2 linked regions of the Homo sapiens genome follow. The protein of the gene in region 1 purifies or fractionates together with the protein of each later gene. This does not show direct contact. Each region holds a gene or a part of one and is shown in the gene's direction. Other genes may lie near its edges. The genes, in order: LRRIQ3 and R3HCC1L.

The links.
Region 2: the proteins of LRRIQ3 (region 1) and R3HCC1L purify together in Homo sapiens (affinity purification with mass spectrometry; 2 studies listed by BioGRID and IntAct, with this or other methods). This does not show direct contact.

The regions. Positions count from the first base shown.
Region 1 is NC_000001.11:74,180,342-74,188,852, reverse strand, and holds part of LRRIQ3 (leucine-rich repeat and IQ domain-containing protein 3), read left to right. Parts: intron 1-5,168; coding exon 5,169-5,417; intron 5,418-5,991; coding exon 5,992-6,315; intron 6,316-8,511.
Region 2 is NC_000010.11:98,130,049-98,138,513, forward strand, and holds the start of R3HCC1L (coiled-coil domain-containing protein R3HCC1L), read left to right. Parts: upstream 1-4,608; 5' UTR 4,609-4,658; exon of another isoform or gene 4,659-4,976; intron 4,977-8,465.

The DNA.
Region 1 (8,511 bases):
TACCGAAATGGGAGAGACTTTGTCATTTGTACTTAGAAGTCTTTTACAGGTTCCTTCCCCATAGTTTGCTGTTTCTCTGAGGAAAGGAAAAGACAGACATGTGTATGAAAGAGACATTTATTGAAACCTGACTCAGTTCTAGTTCAGGTCCTATGGAAAAATTTGAAAAACTACCTAACCATAAAACAAGTTTTCTGTTCACAGGGTACATATAATTTAGTGGAAAACAGGGCCATTAAATAATAACATATATAAATATGTAATCACTAAATTGGGGATGTGTGGATAGAATCAGAGTCTAAATAATGACTAGACAATAATTTGCCAAAGAAGGTTACACTGAGAGAGAAGTGTAACATCCTAAGATAGCAGGTTAGCACATTTCATTAACTAAGAAGCCAGGGTTCTTAATAGTTTGGATTTTTTAAATTTTTGCTTTAAGTTCAGGGATAGATGTACAGGTTTGATACATAGGTAATCTTGTTTCAGGGTAATTTGTTGTACAATTGATTTAGTCACCCAGGTGTTAAGCCTAGTGCCCATTAGTTATTTTTCTTAATCCTCTCCCTCCTCCCACTCTCCTCCCTCTAGTAGGCCCCAGTGTGTTGTTCCCCTTTATGTGTCCATGTGTTTTCATAATTTAGCTTCCACATATAAGGGAGAAAATGCAGTATTTGGTTTTCTATCCCTGCATTTTTTTGCTGAGGATAATATCCTCCAGCTTTATCCATGTTCCTGTAAAGGACATGATCTCATTCTTTTTATGGTTGTATAGTATTCCATGGTGTAAATGTACCACATTTTCTTTATCCAGTCTACCATTTATGGGCATTTAGGTTGATTCCATGTGTTTGCTATTGTGAATAGTGGTGCAGTGAACATACGTATATGTGTCTTTATAATAGAACAATTTTTATTGCTTTAGGTATATACCCAGTAATGGGATTGCTGGGTCAAATGTTGTTTCTGTTTTTAGGTCTTTGGGAAATTGCCACACTGTCTTCCACAATGGTTGAACTAATTTACACTCCCACCAACAATGTATAAGCGTTCCTTTTTCTCCACATCACCAGCATCTGTTATTTTTTGACTTTTTTTGTTGTTTTTTAATTTTTATTTCAATAGTTGTTGGGGTACAGGTGCTATTTTGTTACATGGATAGGTTCTTTAGTGATGATTTCTGAGATTTGAGTGTACCTGTCACCCAAGCAGTGTGCACTGTACCCAGTATGTAGTCTTCTATACCTCGTGACCCTCCCAACCTTCACCCTTGAGTCCTCAAAGTACATTATATCATTCTTAGGCCTTTGCATCCTCACAGCTTAGCTCACACTTATATGTGAGAACTTATGATATTTGGTTTTCCATTCCTGAGTTACTTCACTTTGAATAATAGCCTTCTGGGCTACATCCAAGTTGCTGCAGAAGACATTGTTTTGTTCCTTTTTGTGGCTGAGTGGTATTCCATGGTGTGTGTGTGTGTGTGTGTGTGTGTGTGTAAACATATACCTATATATATATATCTATATATCTCTCTCACATTTTTTTAATCCACTAATTAGTTGATGGGTACTTAGGTTTGTACCATATCTTTGCAATTGTGAGTTGTGCTGCTATAAACATGTATGTTCATGTGTCTTTTTTATATAATGAATTATTTTCCTTTGGATAGATACCCAGTAGTGGGATTTTTGGATCAAATGGTAGTTCTACCTTTAGTTCCTTAAGGAATTTCCATACTGTTTTCCATAGTGGTTATACTAGTTTACATTCCCACCAGCAGTATTCCCTTTTCACCACATCCACGACAGCATCTATTGTTTTTTGACTTTTTAATTATGGCCATTCTTGCAGGAGTAAGGTTTTAATTTACATTTCCCTGATGATTAGTGATTTTTTTTCTTGCTTATAATAGTCATTGATTAAAGCTAAAAAGTAGGCAGTTGAACAAAATGGAGGAAAAGACACTGCATTAAGTAACATCAAAAAGATCTCAAATTTGAATTTAATATATCCTTAATTACACTAGTACTTAATTCTTACAATTTTTTTTCTAATAGACATCTTTTTGATTGAAACTGAAAAGTAAACTGTTGTACAAAATGGAAAAAAAAGGCATTGAATTAAGTAATATCATGAGCATTATCCCAAATTTGGATTTGTGTGAACCAATATTTCATTTCTTCCTCAAACTCTATGTCTTATTTACAAGAAGTTTTCAAGTGAGGCAATAGTGCCAATCATACCAATTCCCTTATTATATATTACAAATTTTATGTAGAAAAATATTTGAACATATTTAAGAATTTTGGTGGGAGGGGACAATGTTATTTTATCAGGTTCATTACAACAGTATTTGTTAATGTCACAAAGCTACTAACAAGGTTATTCATCTAATAGCTAAAATTTGAATGTCTCACACAAGTGTAGAACCTCTCATTTTGGAAAATTCTCTAATATATCTGAGATCAGTAAGGAAAATAGAAAAAACTCCACTTTGGAATAATACCATTAGTAGTTCATTGGCATGTTCAAATGGCATATAGATAGCATTAATGCAGAAGGTTTAAAATAAACAATTATTCCTGGTGGATGAATCTATAGACATTACTAACTATATTTGATTAATAGCACTGTTGAGAATCCCTGAAAATAAATGCCAGGAAGAAGATAATATCTTCATAAAGAAATTTCAAAATAGACTGTTAAGAGATGGAATAATCAATGTGAGAAATAAATCCTTTGAAATAAAAATATTTATATATATTTATATAGCTATATATTAAATATAATTATATATATAATTTTGTGTACATATATATAATTTGTGTACTAATGCCATGATTAACAGTATAAAGCCACCTTTAGCATTATGTGAAGAAATGAGATCTCTGAGGTTCCATGTTGATCGGTGTTGGTTTTTCAAGGACTTTTTTTTTTGAGACGTAGTCTTGCTCTGTCGCCCAGGCTGGAGTGCACGCTCCTGGGTTCACACCATTCTCCTGCCTCAGCCTCCCGAGTAGCTGGGACCACAGGCGCCCGCCACCACGTCCGGCTAATTTTTTGTATTTTTAGTAGAGACGGGGTTTCACCGTATTAGCCAGGATGGTCTTGATCTCCTGACCTGGTAATCCGCCCGCCTCAGCCTCCCAAAGTGCTGGGATTACAGGCGTGAGCCACTGCGCCCGGCCCTTTCAAGGACTTTTTATGCATTTATGAGCTAAAAATGAAATGAAAATTAAGAAAATGAAAAGGCAAGCCACAGAATGGGAAAAAAAAACTTTGGAAAACACATATCTGACAAAGGATTGGTATCTGAAGTAATACAAAGTACTCAAACTCAACAATAACACAATACCACAATCAAAATATAATGGACAAAAGATCTGAACAGATAACTCACCAAGGAAGATATACATGTGGCTAATAAGCCACATGTATGAAAGATGCTCAACATCATATATTATTAGGGAATTGCAAATTAAAGCAATGAGATACCATTATTCACCTATTAATATGACCAAAATCAAAACATTGACAACATTATGTACTGGTGAGGTTGTGGAGCAATAAAATCTCTCATTCATTGCTGGTGGGAGTCCAAATGGTACAACCACATTGGAAGACAGTAGCAGTTTTTTACAAAATGAAATATATTATGTGATTCAGCAAACAAACTCCTTGGTATTTATCCAAGTAAGTTGAAAACATATCCACACAAAAACCTGCACATAAATTTTTATAGCACTTTTATTCATAATTGTGTAAAGTTGGAAACAGCCAAGACATTTTCAATAGGTGAATGGATAAATAAACCAAACCATAGTGCATCCATGCGATGGAATGTTATTCAGTACTTTAAAAAATGAGTTATTTTTCTAAAGACTTGGAGGAACCTTAAATTTAAGCTTTCTTTAAATGAGGAAAGACTTATATCTTTTCTATTTTGGAAGTCCAAATGATGTGTATATTATCCTACATCCCAGCACCAATAGAGCTTCATGAGTTTAATTTGTAAAGGTTTATTTATATCTGTGTATTCCATATCTGACTCTATATTTTTAAGACTGGTTTACTTGTAGTTGAGGCTAATCTTTCATAAGGTGTTCGTCGATCACCTGTTAACATTATTCCTATGCCCTTAGCCCAGAAATTCTGATACAGTAGATATGAGATGGGGCCCATGAATCTGCCTTCTAATTAATTCATTGACACTTAGAGCTGGAGGATTCTAGTTTTAGGCCTTGGTTGTGATATATAAAGTAACCAGTGTCTTGAAAGAGTACAAGAGTGTATCTGGATTTTCACATTTATTCTCATTTGAATCACACTGATTTAGTTTATCTGCACATCGTAGAAATCGATTCTTCCATTGGGGAATGTTGATCTTAAAACATACTTCCAAATAGACCACTTCAGCTCATACATTCTCTTCTCACCTATCACTGACTACCTTTTATGAAAGCTGAAATTACTCTTAATAAGTGAAAATTCACATATATGAGAAATACTGTGTAAAATTATATTAAAAACCATTTATCCAAATATTTTAGATAAATTTAAGTAGTCAAAATTTAAAGCTATTAGAATTCTGAGCCTAATTTCCTAATTGAATTGAATGTAAATATTTTGACAACAAATTTTCTCTGTAAGACACAAATATTGTTGATAACATTTGAAGGCCTGTATAGCACCTTTATTTTATCTGGCTGCATTGTTTAGCCTCTTTAACAAAGATTATCACTCTCCTGACTTGTTTATTATTCAGTGTATTTCTTTAACAGTATATTTTAACAAAAATTATCATACGAGTTATATAAAGTATGGTTTCATTTGTTTGTTGTTAGTTGTCTTGTCTAGAAGGGATGATTTTATCTCAGTTTCTTCACTGAATTTTTCAAATATTCTATGAAAATGGAAGTTTGTCTTCCTCTTGCTAATTAGTTCGTTCACTGGTGAGGGCAGTGATAACATTCTGATTGGCTGTTATTGAAATGTTAGATATTTAAGTTATTTTGGGATAGAAAGTTCTATAAGAATGAGTTTTTTTAAATTTTAACTTTAATAACACTTTTTACTTGCGCTATCTCTTGGCAAAATTTTGTTTGTTTTCAGGTAAATTTTTGAAAGTGGAAAAAAAAATCAAAGCACTTTCTTATCTTTCCTAGATGTTTCATGGAACAGTCACAGAAGAGCTAACCAGTCATGAAGAATGGAGTCACTATAATGAAAACATAAGAGAAGGTCAAAAAGATTTTGTTTTTGTGAAGTTCAATGGCCTTCATTTAAAGTCTATGGAAAATTTGCAGTCTTGCATCTCTCTTAGAGTATGCATCTTCTCAAACAATTTTATTACAGATATTCATCCACTTCAAAGTTGTATAAAATTAATCAAACTTGATCTCCATGGAAATCAGGTAAGCAATAGCCATTTCAGATATTTGCATATAAACGAAATTTCAGTCTTATAATAAGTACTTATGTTACCTATCCACAGTATTTCTTCAACATGGTCTTTTGTCTAAAATATAAACAAAAATTTAACAATAAATTAAAAGCATGTAAGATGTATATAAATACGGACACTTTGATGTAAATGAAAATACATAAATAGTGTGTAATCTGGTATGTTTCACTTCTTAAATCTATAGCCTGGATTAAGAATGCCTCATGATTCCTTAATTTTCCTTAGGTAAGGAAAGTATTTTAGAAAAGTTTAAAGAGTCAACCTATTACAAAGAAATTTTCTTTGAACAAAAAAGTATGGTTATGCATTTTACTATGCGAATAATAATAAATTATCTCAGATACCCAGTGTATTATGGTTTTCAACTGGCCATCATTGGATAATTATAAATACTCTGTTTGCTTATTAATTAGAAACTTGCTATTTGGGGAATATTGAATTTTATATGTGTAATATTTTACCATTTTCTGTGCTATTCGAAAAAAGTAATTTTGGAATTTAAAAGATTTTTAATAATATTTCAGATAAAGAGTCTACCAAATACCAAATTTTGGAATGGATTGAAGAACCTAAAACTACTCTATCTTCATGACAATGGGTTTGCAAAGTTAAAGAATATATGTGTATTATCTGCCTGTCCAACCCTCATTGCCCTCACTATGTTTGATTGTCCAGTAAGCCTTAAAAAAGGATATAGACATGTTCTTGTTAACAGTATATGGCCTCTCAAAGCGCTGGATCATCATGTGATTTCTGATGAAGAAATAATTCAGAACTGGCATCTTCCTGAAAGATTCAAAGCATGTAACCATCGACTTTTCTTTAATTTCTGCCCAGCTTTGAGAAAGGTAATTGGCTTCTTTAGGGTTTCATTTTAATTAAATGTATAAAAGGGAAATTTTAGCTTCTGAGTTCTATATCTAAATTATATAAACTTTTTAATATTTTTGCATCATTTATATAAAATAATATAAACCAATGAATATATTTGTAATGTCTTTCTATCTGAAACTTGATAAAAGTTTGCATGCCAACTACATTAAACAAAGCCTGAAATGATCAAATTGTAGAGAAACAAATTTTTGTTTTTTAAATTGAAAGTAAATCTCTAATTTATTCAGAATTTGGTATATGAAAGACTCCATTGAGAAATACTTAATGTTTTTTAAGAGCGTTAAAGGATGACTTAGATTATTATTAGAAGATAAAATATTTAATTCTTACACAATTGATTTGGTTATTTGACAAGATAAAACCATCATTATCTATTGATTTATAAAATGTTAGAAGAAGTGATTGTGAAAAGTTGATACCAAGTTAACGGATACAGACTAATTAAGTGGATTTACAAAAACATAAGGAAACGTTCTTTATAACACATGAATAAATATTAGAACAAATCATTTAAGAGTTCAAAAGAGGGGGTTAAATTAGGTACAAGATATAGTAACAATAAGTTGCAGGAAATGTTTGTAATATGTTCTAAAGATATGTGAAGTCACATATATGTGTGTAGAAATTTTGAGGAAGAATAGAACATAATTTTGAACAGTGAGTATATCTAAAAGAATATATAAACATTGAACAGTGATTATGCGTGGAAAAACTGAAAATTACAAAGTTGGAAGAATTTTATTACTGCATATAATTTTTTTAATTAGGGACATATTAGTGATTTTGTAATAGTTTTAAAAATTTAGGATTTTGGTAATAATTTTGTACTAATAGTTAAAAATATAAAAAACAAGGTAGTATTTAAGTCTGATATCTTAACCTGGGCCCTAAATAAAGAATTTCACTTAGGTACTTCAGTTGCGTAGTATGGCATAATGAAAGGTGGCAACAGGCATGACCCTTTTAAGGATAATCGAAGTGACAGATTCATTTAAGGAAGTAATGGAAAGTTGGGCAGTGGGCATTGAGAAAGAACTTGGATGACCTACTAAAGAGCTTAGACTTGATGAATATAATGAAGATTAATTGAAATTATTTGAGTAGGAAAATTAGGGTAGGTCCCTCATAGTAAGTGCTCTATGAATAAATGGTATTGACAAGGTTTTTAAAAGGTGATCAACCCAACATTTTGCTAGCAGATTAATGGAGGATAGAAGCCAAATGAGGGCAAGGGGATCAATTACTGTAGGTTCAAAATGATGTGATTAGGATTGATATAGGCAGATACCAGTAATAAAGAAGAAAGAACACAGTGTAGAGGACAGACACATATTCAGTGAATGCCATTGTGGTAGGCGCTTTATACATTTTATTTCTTCATTCTTTCACCAAGTATATACTGAGTACCTAATATATGAAAAGGACTGTCTGGGACTTGGAGATTCAGTGGTAAATAATACTGACAAAATTCTTGTCCTCATTAAGTCCAAGGGAAAGGCACAGAGAATAGACAAATCTGGAAACAAAAATAAAACTAAACAACCATAAAATGTCAGCTAGTGTTAGTTGCTAAAGAAAAGAAAGTAAGGCATTAACACAGACTGAAAGGGGTAGAGATTTGGGCTACATTAGCTAGGGTGGATGGGGAAGGCCTTTTTGAAGAATATTTATTCCTCATTGTTTCCTTGGATGTGGAAAAATGTTAGTCTTATTTTACAGGAGAAAATGAAGCATAGTGAGGTTTAGGAACTTACCCAATATTGGACAGCAAATGAGTCATGAGGTGGGATTTCAACAAGTCTGCAGTCAACATTGCATCACAAATGACAGACAGTGCAGAGATTTGAGTGTACTTTTCACACTGAGTGTGGAAAGAGGAGAAGAATAAGTGTGGAAATACTCCTCTACTATTTTGAAGCTGGATAACTGGGACAGAAAAGAACTTATTTAACAGAAATGGCAGCACTTAAAGACTTTTGGTGAAAAGATAAGTTTGGTCATACTTCTTTGAGGCAGGATATTAAAGAAGAAATAATAACTAGACATTGGAAATGAAAAACAAAAATTCAGAAATAGTGTTCTGGACTTGATTGTAAATTCAGGAGTATTTGCTTGGGGTCATAGTTAAAGCCTAGTTCTCTCAGGTAAAT
Region 2 (8,465 bases), on another chromosome or scaffold:
ACTTCTCTCCATCCCTCTGCAAGCACTTTGTTTCATTATTTCTCACCTAGCCTACTGCAATAGATGGGCTCCCACTTCTACTCCAGTCTTCTAAACCAAAGCAGGAGCAATTGCATTAAAATATGAATCAGATAACATCATCCTCTTTTTAAAACCCCCTTTTTGGTGGCTATAATTTAATCCAGGGTTCTGACCATGGCCTTGAGGCTGTGCATACCTGGCTCTAATTACCACCTCAGGTCATCTAGACCACTTAAACTACACTCTCTCTACCCCAGGAAAACGGACCACTCTGTCCCTCAAACAGCCTGGCTCTTTCTTTGTGTGGTCTGATCCCTTTGGCTGGAGCACACTTTCCCCGGTTCTCCATCTCTTTCTCAACCTTCAGTGCTCAGTGGAAAGGTTGTCTACTCAGAGAGGTCTTCTTAGACCACCTTGTTAAAGTAGTGTAGTATTTTATGTCCATCACTGTAGTCATTGGTTCTTGCATTCCTATAAAGAACTACCTGAGACTGGGTAATTTATAAATAAAAGAGGTTTAATTGTCTCATGGTTCTGCAGGCTCTACAGGAAGCATGGCCAGAGAGGCCTCAGGAAACTTACAATCATGGCAGAAGGTGAAGGGAAAGCAGGTGCATCCTACATTTCTGGAATAGGAGAAAGAGAAAGACGGCGAGGTGCCGCACACTTTTAAGCCATCAGATTTCATGAGAACTCACTGTCACGGGAACAGCAAGGGAGAAATACGCCCACATGATCCAATCACCAGGCCCCACCTCCAACATTGGTGATTACAATTCGACATAAGATTTGGATTGGGACACAAATCCAAACCATATCAACTGTCATTCATGGCCAGGATGTTCTACTGCACAGCAGCCTGCTCCATTTGAAAGTACAGAGTTCTTTGCTTATTTCTTGTTTTATCTGCTAGATTATAAGCTCCGTTACAGTAGGGACCATGCTTGTGTGTTCTCCACTGCGTGCCCCCTCATCACCTTGCTAAGTCTCTGGTGCACAGTAATAAAAATCAATACATATTTGCTCAATGAAGTTGATACAAGGAATTCTTCCAATAGAGGAGTGGACATTACAATATAATGTAGATGTGTGATATGACAAAGGCATTGATATGCTAGTAAACTGGCTCTTCGACAGCAACAACAACAAAAAGAAGCCCTGATTTGTCATTTGCTGATTTCCACGGAGTATTTACACACACACACATTACAAATCACAGCAGATTTCAAACTACCAATGGCTAAAACCGGCTTGCAAAAATTCCTGAACATCTAACAGTTGTCTCTTTAAAGCTGGTATGAGGCTGGGGGTGGTGGCTTATGCCTGTAATCTCAGCACTTTGGGAGGCCAAGGTGCAAGGACTGCTTTAGCCCTGGAGTTCGAGACCAGCTTGGGCTACAGAGTGATAACTCGTCTCTATTAAAAAATTAAATAAATAAATAATAAATAACAAAGTTGGTATGAGCTGGCTCTAGCATATCACTGGAAGAGAGGCCAACATGGGTGGGATGAGTGTCCAGGAAAGGAGCACTAATTTGTCTTGGTGGGGGTGGGGGGCCGAGTTCAGCAAAGGCTTCCTGGAGGAGATGATACTTGACTTGTGTTTTGAAGGGTGGGTATGCTGGCTCTGGCCTGATACCTCTAAACTGAATAACATAGTCCAGTTCCCCATAGGCCACATTTCACTGTTTCTGGGTCCCCTACTGAGCCCACTGCTGTAATGCCTGAGGCTTATCATCTGACTCAGCACAATCCTCAGAAAATCCTTTCGTGTGGCTGGTGTTCTACTGGGTTTCCTCTGAATCCCACAGAGGAGAATTACATAGCAGTATAAGTTAGTCAAGGGAGAAGGGAGAGGGTTTTCCAAACAGAGGGAGAGCTTATACAAAGGTTAAAGAGCAAGCGCTACAGCAGTTTGGTAAATCTAAGGTGTCTATGGGAGGGAGAAGAAGGAGATTAGCTCCTGACAGGCTTTGTTTGATAGGGTAAGGAACATAAACTGATTCCCAATCTGGGCTGGGGCAGGTGGGAGAGAAGGGGAAAGGGACCAATTATAATACTTTTCCTCCATAATTCTTATTACAGCTGGTAACTATGGGTTTTTTGTTGGTTTTGATTTTTGGTATGAAATCATTTAATATCTGTCTCTTCCAAGAGAATGTAAACTCCACAAGGGCAGGTAATATTCGGTTCACTGTTGTTTTCTCAGTACCCAGCACTGGTACATAGCAAGCAACAAAATGTATTTTGTTGAATGACTGAATAACCAGGGAACTTTATTTTATTTTTAATTTTTTTGAGACAGGATTGCTCAGGCTGGAGGGCAGTGGCACAATCATGGCCCACCATAACTTTATTCTTGGGCTCAAGCAATCTCCCCACCTCAGCCTTCCAAGTGGCTAGGACTACAGGCTTGTGCCACCATGGCTGGCTAATTAAAAAAATTTTTTTTTGCAGAGATGAGATCTCCTTATGTTGTCTAGGCTGGTCTTGACCTCCTGGGCTCAAGTAATCCTCCCACCTCAGCCTCCCCAGTTGCTGGGATTACAGGCATGAGCCACCACAGTGGGCCTCCTCGGGAATTTTTTAAAAAATGCCCATGTCCACCTACCCTACAGTAAGATTTCCTATAAATCTTCTTTCACTGAACCTCCCAACCACAATACTGGATTCTGATTGCCTGGTGAGTTTTTCCTGCCCACTGCACAGACAAAACCAATTCACTGAGACCATGGCAGAGCAGTAAAGAATTTAATTGATGACAGAGTTATCTTAAATCAAACTCCCTGAAGGTTCAGAGGTTAGGGTTTTTATGGACATTTTGGTGGGCAGGGGGCTAGGGAATGGGTGCTGCTGATGGGTTGGGAATGAAATCATAGGGGTGTGGAAAACAGTCCTCATGCTCTGAGTCCACCTCTGGGTGGGGCCACAGGAGCAGCTGAGTCATGAGTTAGGAGTCCTGAAGAAGGAACAGATTCAAGGAGTACTTGGGAGATAGTGAGAGAAGAAAGAGACCCTCTCATATTGTTTTATATTGTTTTATACTCAGTACCTGTTTTAAGAAAAAAAACAAGGAAGTGAAACCAAAGGCAGGCAGCCCAGCACCAGGCACCAGACCCAAAACCAGACCTGAAACCAGGCCTGGGCCTGCCTGGCCTAAACCTAGTAGTTAAAAATCAACTCATGACTTAGCATAGATTCCAGGCATTGTATGGAAGAACATTGTACTCTGTTCTGTTTCACTCTGACTACCACTGCATGAAGCCCCTGTCACATACACCCCAGATTGCTCAATCAATCACGACCCTTTCATGTGAAATCTTTAGTGTGGTGAGCCCTTAAAAGGGACAGAAATTGTGCACTCGGGGAGCTTGGATTTTAGGACAGTAGCTTGCCGATGCTCCCAGCTGAATAAAGCCCTTCGTTCTACAACTTGGTGTCTGAGAGGTTTTGTCTGCGGCTCGTCCTGCTACAATAGAATCTCCAAGATTTGGTGACCATTTGAATATTGGAGGAAGAGGAAGTGAGAAAGGAGGAATCAGGTTAAAGAGTGAATATTAATGAGTAGGGAGGAGGGGTAGTAGTTTACTTTTCTTTTTTTGGGGGACGGAGTCTCCCTGTGTTGCCCAGGCTGGAGTGCAGTGGTGCAATTTTGGCTTACTGCAACCTCCGCCTCCCGGGTTCAAGCGATTCTCCTTCAAGCAATTCTCCTGCCTCGGCCTCCTGGGTAGCTGGGATTACAGGTGCCCACCACCACGCACAGCTAATTTCTGTACTTTTAGTAGAGACAGGGTTTCACCATGTTGGTCAGGCTGGTCTCGAACTCCTGACCGCAGGTGATCCACCTGCCTTGGCCTCCCAAAGTGCTGGGATTACAGGCATGAGCCACTGTTCCTGGCCCCAGTAGTTCACTTTTCAAGGACACTGGAGATGCCTGTGGGCATGGATGAGGAGAGGTCTTGTCTAGGAAGTTGGGAATACAAACAATGAGCTCAGGTGAGAAGGGACTGGAGTGTCCCCTCTCCCACCCCAATTTTAAGAACTCTGGAAAACACCAATATTTTAGAGGTAAGTTAGAGGAAACAAAGTAGAATGAATTCAGAGAAGGAAAACCTGGATAGTGTCATAGAAAATAAGTGATAATGCCCAATAGCGTCAAATGACTAAAGCTTGAGTTAGATGAGTCCGGAAATACCTCCAATGAGTTTGGCAACAAGGACACTTATGACAACAAGGCATTTTCCATGGGGGCGGAAGCTGCGATGAGGAGTGAACACAGATGAGCAAGTAGAGACAGTGTAGATTATCTTTTTCAAAAAACTTGGCTGTGAACGGAGGAAGTGAGATGGTATAATTGAGTGGAATGTAAGGAGATTTGCGCACGTATATAGCCGAGAGGAATGAGGAAGGGTTGAAGGGACAGGAGCAGAAATGCTCTCCGGCACTCGCCATTTTGCCAGCTTCTCCCCTACGTGACCTGAACTCAGTGGGCGCGGCCGGGCCTCGCGGAAACTACAACCCCCAGAAGGCCCCACGGCGTTGGGGGCGGAGCCGAGGCCTGACGCGCGCCCCAGCGGCGCGAGCGGAAGAGATAGAGCTTCGCGGAGACGGCGGAAGCGGAGAGCAACAGCGCGCCGGTAACAACCAGCCCCGTATCCCCTCCCTCTGTACCTCAAGCTAGGATTTTTAATCCCCACTTCTCCCTTCACAGCCCGGGACAAGACTTCCATTCCGTCGTTTGTTGCTGGTATTTTTTTTCCTCATGTGACGCGAGGGGCCGCCCCCTGCCTGGGGCGGAGGTTACTGGGAAGCTCCCGCCTTCTGACCCCTGCGGGCCCGCGGTTGAGAGGGACCCTCCCGGGGCTCTTTTGCACTCACTGGGGCTCGTGCTCGCTTTGGGCGCTCGCCCCAAATGATCCTGGCGGAAAGGACGTGCTTTTTCTGGGTTTCAACAGGTATTGAGCGGGGTCCCTGGTTACCCCCTCGGGGCTGCGGGGCCGTGGGCCCCCAGGGCTGCCGGCGGTTTCCGGGCTTCGCTTCGAGCCTCGCCTTTGAGCCTCCTCCGCTGCCCGGGAGCCCCGGGCTACGGGCTGGGAGTGAGCAATCTATAAAGGAGCATGTACTTCCTGCTTTTTCTTGGCAGGCCTGCGAAAAACCCCAAGTCCGATCTTTAAAGTTTGTGAGTGCAGCCCCCTCTCAGTTGTGTACGGGAAGGAGCACAGGATTTGGAGTCTGATATCCTGGGGGAAGTCTCAGTCCGCCACTTGGCTGGACCTGTGATCTTTTGTACAGTAGTCTGTTTAGCGCAGCCTCGGTTTCGTTGTCTGAAAAGTGGGGTTAATGTTCTTTGCCCTGCGGCCTTCCAGGGTTGTGGGCTTCAGCAGAAGTGATATTCCTGCGAAAGCTTTGAACTCTAAAGTATGTTTCGGGTATAACCTTGCCATCCCCCAGTCTCCAGTCTAGGTCAGTTGAGTTTTAAAACCAGGTTCATGTCTATACGAAGATCAAATTAGTTAATAAATAGGGGGAAAGTGTCTTTGGAAACGAATCTGAACCATACAGATGTTTTTATGCCAGGTTCCTAGTGAAGAGGTGACCTTAGGGCGTTACCACCTGTGGAGTCAATTTAAAACTTCATCTGGATTTTAAGGCCCACCAGAATTTAGACTCTTCTTCCTCAGCACACACAACTATCTCTTGCTGTTATAACCTTCCTTCAGTATCACACAGGTACAAGCATAAAGCAGTAAACGTTCCTCAGATATGGTTGTACTACAACTAATACCTGTCCCCAGCAGGTCTTGTGTCTTGTGTCACAGTTGAAATTCAGAATATAAATAGCCAAATATCCCATCTGTTTAATTTTTTTTGACATTAAGCTTTGAGACTAAGCAAGTTGCTTATTGTCTTATTTTTCCCCTTACAGAGAATGCTAATTCTGCAATCAGTTTTTTTTTTTTTTTTGGGTAGAATCAGGATTTCACTATGTCGCCCAGATTGGTCTAACTCCTGGGCTCAAATGATCCTCCCGCCTCGACCTCCCAAAGTGTTGGTATTACAGGCGTTTGACACTGTGCCCACTGTGCCCGACCTCTGCGATTAATTTTTAAAGGGGTAAGAAAGTGTAGTTAGGTATTTTTAGTCTGTGTTTATTCTGAATTTATTGATTGAAGAATACTTGAAAATGGTCCAAAAAACAAGAGAGGATGACAGTAAGTTGCATTAGCTTAGTGTACAAATTCGAGCAAATTTGAGTTCAAGTCCTGGTGCTGTGTCTTACTACAGGTTGGAGTATCCTTATCTGAAATGCTTGGTACCAGAGTGTTTCAAATTTCAGATTTTGGTATATTTGCATATACATAGTTAGATATCTTTGGGATGGGACCCCAATCTAAACATGAAATTGATTTAGGTTTCATATATACCTTATATACATAGCCTAAAGGTAATTTTATATAGTATTTTTAATAATTTAATAATTTGTGTCCAGACGCGGTGCCTCACGCCTGTAATCCTAGCGCTTTGGGAGGCTGAGGCAGGCAGATTGCCTGAGCTCAGGAGTTCAAGACCAGCCTGGGCAACATAATGAAACCCCATCTCTATTAAAAGTACAAAAAATTAACCAGGTGTAGTGGTGCACGCCTGTAGTCCCAGCTACTCGGGAGGCTGAGGCGCGAGAATCGCTTGAGTCCTGGAGGTGGAAGTTGCAGTGAGCAGAGATTGGGCCACTGCACTCTAGCCTGGCCGATAGATTGAGACTCTGTTGGGCATAACACTAAGTTTGGATTGAATTTTTACTAAGACCTGTCACATAAGGTCGGGTGTGGAATTTTCCACTGGTGGTGTCAAAAGTTTTTGGGGCTGGGCGCGGTGGCGCACGTCTGTAATCCTGGCACTTTGGGAGGCCGACGTGGGCAGATCACGAGGTCAGGAGGTCGAGACCATCCTGGCCAACATGGTGAAACCCCATCTCTACTAAAATACAAAAAAAATTAGCTGGGCGTGGTGGCGTGCGCCTGTAGTCCCATGTCCTCAGGAGCCTGAGGTAGGGGAATCGCTTGAACTCGGGAGGCTGAGGTTGCAGTGAGCCGAGATCACACCACTGTGCTCCAGCCTGGCGACAGAGCAAGACTCCCGTCTCAAAAAAAAAAAAGTTTGTAAGCATTTTGGATTTCGGATTTTCCGATTAGGGATTCTCAACCTGTAGTTTTTGATTTTGGGCAAATTAGTTGACTTCTCTGAGCCTGTTTCCTAATCTCTCAAATGGAGGTAAATGGCATTATGTCACAAGGTGTCTACAAAGATGAAATGAGATGTGACCATAAATGGCTTACTAGTGCTGGGTACAAATAAAGTTCTCATTATTTTGTTGCTGTTGTTATTGATGATTATGATAATAGTGATGATGATAATTTTAGGTATTTTCCTGAAATTCCATTTATCTGTAAAATGAGGATAGTCATCCTTAATTCACAAACTTTAAAAAATACTGTAAATAGAAGTTGTCAGATTGCAGTTTGTTTTTTAGCAATTGCATTTTATATAAAAATTATATTAGATTTTTTTTCAACTTTAGAGGTTCCTAAAATGCTGTTGTGCAAGGTTATTGGGCTTTGCTGTGTTTCTGTTTTTCTAGAGATTCCAAATGTTGCTTTGTACCTAGTTTGTTGAAATTGAACTGGTGCTTCATTTACAACCTGTAGTAAGAATGCAATTCTGTACATTGTAGCTTGTAGCAGAGCAATTATCTATCTTTATGACTCAGATATTGACTAGGATAGACGTTTATGGAACAGTTTTGTCTTCCTGCCTTATTTTTATTTTTATTTTTTTTAAGCCAGACTATTAGACTTTAAAATTTAAGCTTATTGGATAGGGTCTGGGAGACTTGGTGACCTTCATTTTTTCAAGATGGCATTTCTTAGTGACTGATGCTAATGATGGCATTGGTATGTATGTATCTGCAGGGAGTGAGAGTTGAGAAAAACCAAGGAGGAAAGCCTTATAGAGAAAAATGGTTTGTTGGTCAAGGCAAAGTCTTGGAGTTTAGAATTGAAGTATATATTTTTTACTTCCTTCAAGTGCCATGTTGACTACCAGATATCTGCAGATTCAGATGCTTAGGAAATGTTTCCTTTACTCTCTTTTTTGATGTGGTATGCCTGTGCTATGTTTTGCCAGCTTCTTTCTTACCTTTAGTTATGAATCAGCAAGATAACTATTTTTTCACACCAGACTTGTATACAAAGCTATGACAATAGAAAGTCACTTCCATTAAAATCTACTTTGTATGCTATAATGTGTTAATTTTTCCTTTATGTTTTAATCTTAAACACTTTTGGCTGGGCCTGGTAGCTCACTCTTGTACTTTCAGCATTTTGAGATCCTCTGAGGTAGGCTCATTTGAGGCCAAGAGTTCAAGACCAGCCTGGGCAACAAAGTGA